Homo sapiens: one gene and its partner. The protein of the gene in region 2 interacts with the protein of the main gene of each other region in a pairwise test. Each region holds a gene or a part of one and is shown on either strand. Other genes may lie near its edges.

Region 1 (3,600 bases), on a different chromosome or scaffold from region 2:
CAGGTCTCGCTATGTTGCCCAGGCTGGTGTTGAACTCTTGGCTTCAAGTGTTCTTCCCGCCTCGGCCTCTCAAAGCACTGGGATTCCAGGCATGAGCCACCATGCCCAGCCAGGTACTGATGTCTTGAGCAGGCTGCTGACTGCATCTCTGTGACATTCTGTTCATGCCAACAGTCAACATGGCAGCCGTGTGGAGAGAGGAGCACGTGCACCGCAGGAGAGCCATCTGGGCCTGGGTAGGGTAATCACAGAGCTTTCAGGACATTGAAAGCTGGTTTTGGGAGAGGAGCTTTGGCAGGTCTGTGCCAGCCTGGATCCTCCTTGGGTTCCTCCGCAGGGTTCATCTGTTTCTGAGGCAGATCCACTCAGCAGTGGTGAGCTGCAGCCTGCAGCTTTGCGTGACACTCAGAGATGGCCCCAGACTCTGTTCCTCTACAGGGAAAGGTAATTGCTCTCTCAGAGCCAGTCCTAGGAGCAAAGGGTGGCTGGTAGAAATAACCCATGCTCAGAAAAAGCCTGCATTTTGCATCTTGGCTTCTCTACATTAAAAAACTTAGCTTCCCAATACTAATATAGCATTCACTCTGTGCCGGGCCCTGTTTGACCCCATGACACATCCGTATGAAGTTTTTTTTTTTTTTTTTGAGACGGAGTCTCACTCTGTCACCCAGGCTGGAGTGCAGTGGCGCTATCTCAGCTCACTGCAAGCTCCACCTCCCGGGTTCACACAATTCTCCTGCCTCAGCCTCCCGAGTAGCTAGGACTACAGGCGCCCGCCACCGCGCCCAGCTAATTTTTTGTATTTTTAGTAGAGACGAGGTTTCACTGTGTTAGTCAGGATGGTCTTGATCTCCTGACCTCGTGATCCGCCTGCCTCAGCCTCCCAAAGTGCTAGGATTACAGGCGTGAGCCACCGCGCCCAGCCTCGTATGAAGTTTTATGGTAGGGTTCAGGCAGGGAAGCAAACCCCTCTAAGTGATGCAGAATAGGGGTTTGTGGCAGGGGTGCGACTTTCCACATGGTGGTTGCTGGTGCCGACGTCCTGGTAAAGCGGTTGCCTCTGAGTGTGGTGTTGGTCTGAAGTCAGCAGCCGTGCAGTCAGGAAAGAAGGCTGGGCAAAGAGAAAGGCGCAAGGACAAACTGGCGCCCATGAAGATGGCCTGGACCTGTACGTGACCCTCACTGTCTCAGCCTCCATGACATTGGGCATCCTGCAGAAGAAGCTGGCGCCTTTGCCACAGAGCTATATGCACGCCTGGCTTATGACTCAGCGAAGCTGGAGCGGGGAGATGCAGCAGGAGCGGAGAATCCATGGGCTCGGTGCGGCCCCTCTCTCCCCTGGGCGAGCCCGTGGAGCCACAGAATGCAGAATGTGCCTGGCTGAGCTGCGGCAGCACCGGAGCCGCTTCACCTCCACCTTTCACTCATGCAGATGTCTCTGGGAGTCAGCTTCAACTGGGAACCACGTAGGAAGGAAATTCTGGGCAACGTAGTTCCAGTTGAGCTCTGTGCACGCAGTATATGCAGCCACCGTGAGGGAGTCTGTTATTTTTTTCCACTTTATAGGTAGGACAGTGGAGGGAGGGAGGGGTTAAGTGACCTGCCCAGAGTCACCTAGCTAGTAAGTGGGACTCCCGCTTCAGTGCTTTTGAAGCTGCCACCCAGTGCTTCTACTTTTTCGCTCCAGGAAGCCCACCCGAGTCCTCCAGGAGCTGGACCTCGGGGCCCTCCGGTCCATCGAGAGCTCCCCCGAGATGAAGCCTCCCAGGTACAGGAAACTTCCCGCACAGCCCCTGGATAGGCCGCGGTGGAGCTCAGTCCTGGTCTCTTGGAAGTTGAAGTTTCTTTATGTTTCACCATGCATACTTATTTCTCGGTGACAAGCTTCCTGTGTCTCTCTTACGAGAATGCTGACCAGGCTTGTCTGGGGCTCACCGTGAGCACCCGATGCGGCTGGCAGGTGGAGGACGTTTGTGTGTGGATCATGTGTTTGGGCCCCTTCACAACAACTCGTACCTTTTACTGCCAGCTGCTGCCAGGGGCTGTAGGCATCCCACTGCCGCTTACAGAGATCCAAGTGTTTGTTTCCCAGTAAGCCATGGAGTTTAGAGTTGAGCAAAGGCCTGCCTGGCACACGACTGCCACTGGGTCGGCCGAGCCCTGGGTCTGCAGCTCCCTTTAGGAGCTGGAGGAAGGGCCACCAAAGCCATGGGTGGCGTTTCTTGAGCTGCATCTCAGGGTGGGGCAGCACACCCCAGGCCCTGTGCCCTAGGGGCCTAGATGGGGTAAGCACAGATTTTCTCTACCGCTGGAAACTTAGGGAGGAGGGCTTTGCAAACAGCGACTGAATGGAGCCAAAGGGGATTCAGGCATCATGGGATAAGCAAAGTGAGTATTCAGTCTCCAAATCTGAGACCTCAAAGTTCTTGAATTTCCTGACTGCCTCAGTCTCCCAGCCTATGCTTCCTGAGTCCTGTTAGCACCTGGGGCTGTTGACATGCAATTCTTTGGTCATGTGTCTTAGTCAGTTCTAGCTGTTATAACAAAACACCACAGACTGGGTGGCTTATAAACCACAGACACTTCCATCTCACAGTTCTGGAGGCTGGGAGTCCAAGACAAGGTGCCAGCAGATTCAGTGCCTGGTGGGGCCCCTTTTCCTGGTTCATGAGATGGTGGCTTCTTCCTGTGTCCTCACATGCGGAGGGGGCAAGCTGGCACTATGGGACCTCTTTTATAAGGGCACTCATTCCATTAGTGAGGGCTCTGTCCTTGCAGCCTAATCACCTCCCAGAGGCCCCACCTCCTCATACCGTCACCCTGGCAATTAGGTTTCCATGTGTGAATTTTGGAGGGACACATACTCAGATTGTAGCATCATGTTCACCTTATTTTCTGTGGGTGCTGTCTCCTGGACTTAGGCTGAGTCCTGCACAAAGAGAGCTTCCATGTGGGGCTCCTGACCCCCTCCCACTGTGTCCCCTGCTGTGTAACCTCTGCATAGGAGGGACTGAAGAGTTGTCAAGAGGCCTGGTTTGGGACGGTCCTTACTGGTCATTTGAGGAGGTAAAACTTCCGTGAGGTGATTACTTTAAATAAGCTTTTAAATGTGAAATAATTTTAGATTAATAGAAGAGTTTTACAGATAGTACAGAGAGTGCCCATATCCCCTCCATCCAGCCTGACCTACTGTTAACATCGCACACAGCCACGGCAAATTAATCTCTACCATGAGATGACAGCACTATTCACGAAACCCTAGACTTTCTTCTCATGTCCCCGGTTTTCCCACTGATGACCTTTTTGTGTTCCAGGATCCAGTCTGGATGCCATGCTGCATTTACTTGTCACATCTCCTTAAGTCTCCAGTGTGTGACAGTCTCTCGGTCGTTCCTCATGTTTCATGACCTTGACACGTGAGGAGTCGGGTATTTTGTAGACGGTCCCTCCGTTTGGGTTTGTTTGATGTTGTTTCGCAGTTAAAATGAGGTTATGGATTTGGGGATGGAACACCGTGGAGGTAAAGTGCCCTTCTTGTCACATCGTATCAGGGGCCACATGTTACCAACACAACTTAATAATGGTGATGTGAACCTTGAT
Region 2 (3,948 bases):
TGGACACACGAAATCCATTTAGTGAGCTGGGACCACAATTGAAGAAACTATTAGGATACATCACATGAAGGAAAACTTTTGTTTCAGTTATACATATATTTATACACATGTGACCTGTGTATATTCTCATACATATGTATGCATGCATGCCTAAATGAGTCACAATGTGAAGTGTATTTCTTACTACAGTGAGGTCAAAAAATGTTTGAAAGCCACTGAGATAGAAGGACCAGCCACTTTGAACGCCTTAGAGGCAAAAAGAGCTTTGTGAGTTGTAAGAGGAAAAAGAAGACCAGCATGGCTGAAGCGAGCCCTGGGGAGGAGTGTTATGAAAGAAGGTAGGAAATGTATATAATTTTTCCCACATAGAACCCTCCAGTCAAACATCTTAAATCTGGACTGCCACCTGTTTTTGTCATGGTTCATCATTTAAGAGATGACATGTAAGAATCATCTCCCTGCTTTTATGTCACTTTGTAAACTGTCACTGAGAAGTTAGTAGTTATACTGACGTGATTGAAAATAACCTCTAAACTAAGAATGTATCTTATATTGAGAACGGATTGTTCGTATAATTAAAAAATGAACAAGAAAACCAGGCTCATAGAACTTTGGCGGAGTCCTCTGGTTCATTTCAGGCCCTTCTTACGAGGCAAAAATTTCATGTTAGTTGGTAATTAATTTTGCAAATCTCTTGGCTATAAATACAAAAGGAAATCGTATAAAAGAAACCACTTAGGTCAAATGTAGAGGAAAAAAATGCTGGGACTGTAGATGTGGCTCTTCCATTAACTCCCTAAGTGGCCCTCACGACTTATTCCACTGGTTTGTGCCCTGGAAATCCTTACATGTAAAAAAAAAAAGGAGGTGGAGCAGGTGTTCAGTAAGGTCCCTTCATACTGTAAAATTCTATGATCTTAAGTTATTTACGATCATTTACTATTTTAAACGTTGCGAAAATTAACCTGGTATTTTACCAGACCTTTGTAAAAAGAGGAAGTTACATGACATACAATGAAGATAACGTCCTTAACTTTACGGTAGATGACAGTGGTTGAACAACTAGAAGAGAAAGTCAAAGTTATCTCGGGGAGTTTATATTGTACTTAGATTGAGCTGCACTTTGGAACCGTGTGGCCTTTTCACATGAGATCAGTGTCTTGATAAATACAAACTTCCTGAAAAGATGGGTTAAACCTCAAAGCCTGTGTAACTACAGCTTGACAAAGACTCTCGAGGAAAGGTAAACGGAAAGTGAGTTGGCAACACAACTCACCTACAAGTTCTCCAATCATGAAAAGCAAGTACAGAACGGCAGCAATGGTCAACCTGGCTTTCACCTTTCTCTGCTTCAGTATCTCTCTCTGTTTGCTGCAGTTGTCACAGGAGTCCACCTTCAAACTCAGCTGACTGTTGGTCAAAGGTAAGTCTTGGTCCAGTAAGGAATCATCGTCGGCCTGGAGGGTCGGGTGCGCCCCGTTAACAGGCCTTTCCGGGGCTTCGGAACCGTCATCGGCCACCACAACTCGAAGTTTGTTGAACCGAGAAAGCCCCTCGTCCCCCGCCTCATCCGAGAAGTCAAAGGCGCTGGTGTCATTTAAAAACAGCGGCGCATCATCCTTCCTTAGCATAGATTTGAGGCGCTTCCACGCGCCAGAGCCGGCCATGGCAGAGGCTGAGCGGCCGCGGTGCGGAACGGCTTGGGGGAGGCGGACGGCCGGCGGCGCCTACTTCACCGGAGCGCCAGTTCTCGAGGGCAGTGCCGCGCGTCCCTCCCCATCCTGTGGAAAACGAAACACGTTATAAATTAAAGGCGCCCAACCCTGTCCTCAAGTTCCGAAGCCGCTGGCGGCGGGTCGCAGGGCCGACCCCGACGCTCCGCCGGGGCTCCGCGAGGGGGCGGCACATCTATTTAATACCTGGGGCGCTGCCGCGGGGCCGCAACTCATCTCCCCGCCCCCGGCCGGCTCAGCGAGGCGGGCTCGCGCTGCTCCACCCGCGGCCGCAGGAGAGTGGGGTCGTGCTCGCGCCCGCCGCGCCCGCTGCTGGAGGCCGGCTCCCCAGGTCTGACAGGTTCGGGGCCGGACGCCCACAGCCACCGCCTCTCCCCGCCCTGCGCGAGGCCACGCGCGTGCGCCGGGCGAGGCGCGCGAGGGAGGGGTCGGCGCGAGGACACGCAGGCCTGGCGCGCAGGGCTGGGGCGCCCGCGATGGGCGGGGGCGCGCGGCGCGCCCCGCCTCTCGCCCCGAGGCTGGATTGGGGGCCACTGCGCCGCCTCCGCCCAGGGGTCACTCACTGGCCAACTGAGGGGACTTTGGGCGGCCTCTTCCACCTTCCCAGGCTGGGAGGCAAGTGCGGTCGGAGGGTCACGCCGGGGGCTGGGCGTTGCTGCTAGGAGTTCCCTCCACCGAAAGTGTGTCTCAGGAATCTCGGGTCGGGATCTGGGTTGCGGGTGCTCGGCAGAAGACAAACCCAGCACTTTTCTTGCTAACTGAAAAGGCAAGCAGCTTTTCTCTCCTCGAATTGCTTGTCTCTGGCAAATTGGCAACATTTGCTGCAGTCAACTGGAGAGGGCAAGGCTGTCGTCGTCAGCAGTTCTGTGTCCTACTGTTTTTCAGCAAATATGTATTGTCCTCTTTGTGCTCTCTGCCGTGTTCCTTTTGCCTCCAAGGTATTTACGATATGGACTAAACTCAAGCATAGAAAATCTAGTACAGGCATACCTTGGAGATACTGCGAATTTGGTTCCAGACCACCGCAATATGACAAAGTGAGGTCTCACAAATGTTTCATGTCCCAGTGCAAATACAATCATGTTTATAATGTAGTCTATTAAGCGTGTAATAGCGTTATGTCTAAAACAATGTGCATACCTTAATTTAAAATATTGGGAGAGAGGAAGGAAAAAGTATATATACATTTGTTAATTGCTCTGAGGAAGGAGGGTCGCATGAGCCCAGAGGTTCGAGATTACAGTGAGCTATGATTGTGCCTCCGCACCCCTGCCTGGCGACAGAGTGAGACCTTGTCTCTAAAAATAAACAAGTAAATAAAATACATGACTGCTAAAAAAATGCTATCAGCTGGGCGTGGTGGCTCACGCCTGTAATACCGGCCCTTTGGGAAGCCGAGGCGGGCGGATCACCTGAGATGGGGAGTTCAAGACCAGCCTGACCAAAATGGAGAAACCCTGTCTCTACTAAAAATACAAAATTAGCTGGGCATGGTGGCGCATGCCTGTAATCCCAGCTACTAGGGAGGCTGAGGCAGGAGAATCGCTTGAACCCGGGTGGCGAAGGTTGTGGTGAGCCGAGATCACGCCATTACACTCCAGCCTGGGCAAGAAGAGCAAAACTCGGTCTCAAAAAAAAAAAAAGCTATCAATCATCTAGGCCTTTAGCAAGTCATATTCTTTGCTAGTTGGAGGGTCTTTGCTCCTTGTTAATGGCTGCTGACTGATCTGGATGGTGGCTGCTGAAGGTTGGGGTGGCTGTGGCAATTCCTTAAAATAAGACAACAATGACATTTGCTATATTGATTGACTTGTTTTCATGAAAGAGTTCTTGATGGCGTGTGATGCTGGTTGATAATATTTTACCCACAGTGGACCTTTCAAAATTGGAGTCAATCCAGTTTTCTCAAACCCTGCCTCTGCTTTATCAACTAAGTTTATGGAATATTCAAATCCTTTGTTGCCATTTCAACAGTGTTCACAGCATCTTCACAAGGAGTAGATTCTATCTCAAGAAACCACTCTCTCTGCTTATCTATAAGAAGCAACTCCTCATCTGTTCAAATTTTATGAGATTGCAGCAATTCAGTCACATCTTCAGGTTCCACTTCTAGTTCTCTTGCTATTTCCACCACATCTACAGTTACTTCCTCCATTGAAGTCTTGAATCCCTCAAAATCATCCATTAGGGTTAGAATCCACTTCTTCCAAAATCC

What was found. Proteins that work in one complex are often made in the same cells at the same time.
Region 1: the proteins of SLC30A4 (region 2) and TMEM163 interact in binary tests that used the Homo sapiens proteins (3 or more experiments, as listed by UniProt).

Annotation. Positions count from the first base shown.
Region 1 is NC_000002.12:134,467,401-134,471,000, reverse strand, and holds part of TMEM163 (transmembrane protein 163), read left to right. Parts: intron 1-3,600. UniProt on the Homo sapiens protein: Zinc ion transporter that mediates zinc efflux and plays a crucial role in intracellular zinc homeostasis. Binds the divalent cations Zn(2+), Ni(2+), and to a minor extent Cu(2+).
Region 2 is NC_000015.10:45,520,688-45,524,635, forward strand, and holds the start of SLC30A4 (probable proton-coupled zinc antiporter SLC30A4), read right to left. Parts: upstream 2,069-3,948; 5' UTR 1,920-2,068; exon of another isoform or gene 1,782-1,919; 5' UTR 1,668-1,781; coding exon 1,277-1,667; intron 1-1,276. UniProt on the Homo sapiens protein: Probable proton-coupled zinc ion antiporter mediating zinc import from cytoplasm potentially into the endocytic compartment. Controls zinc deposition in milk.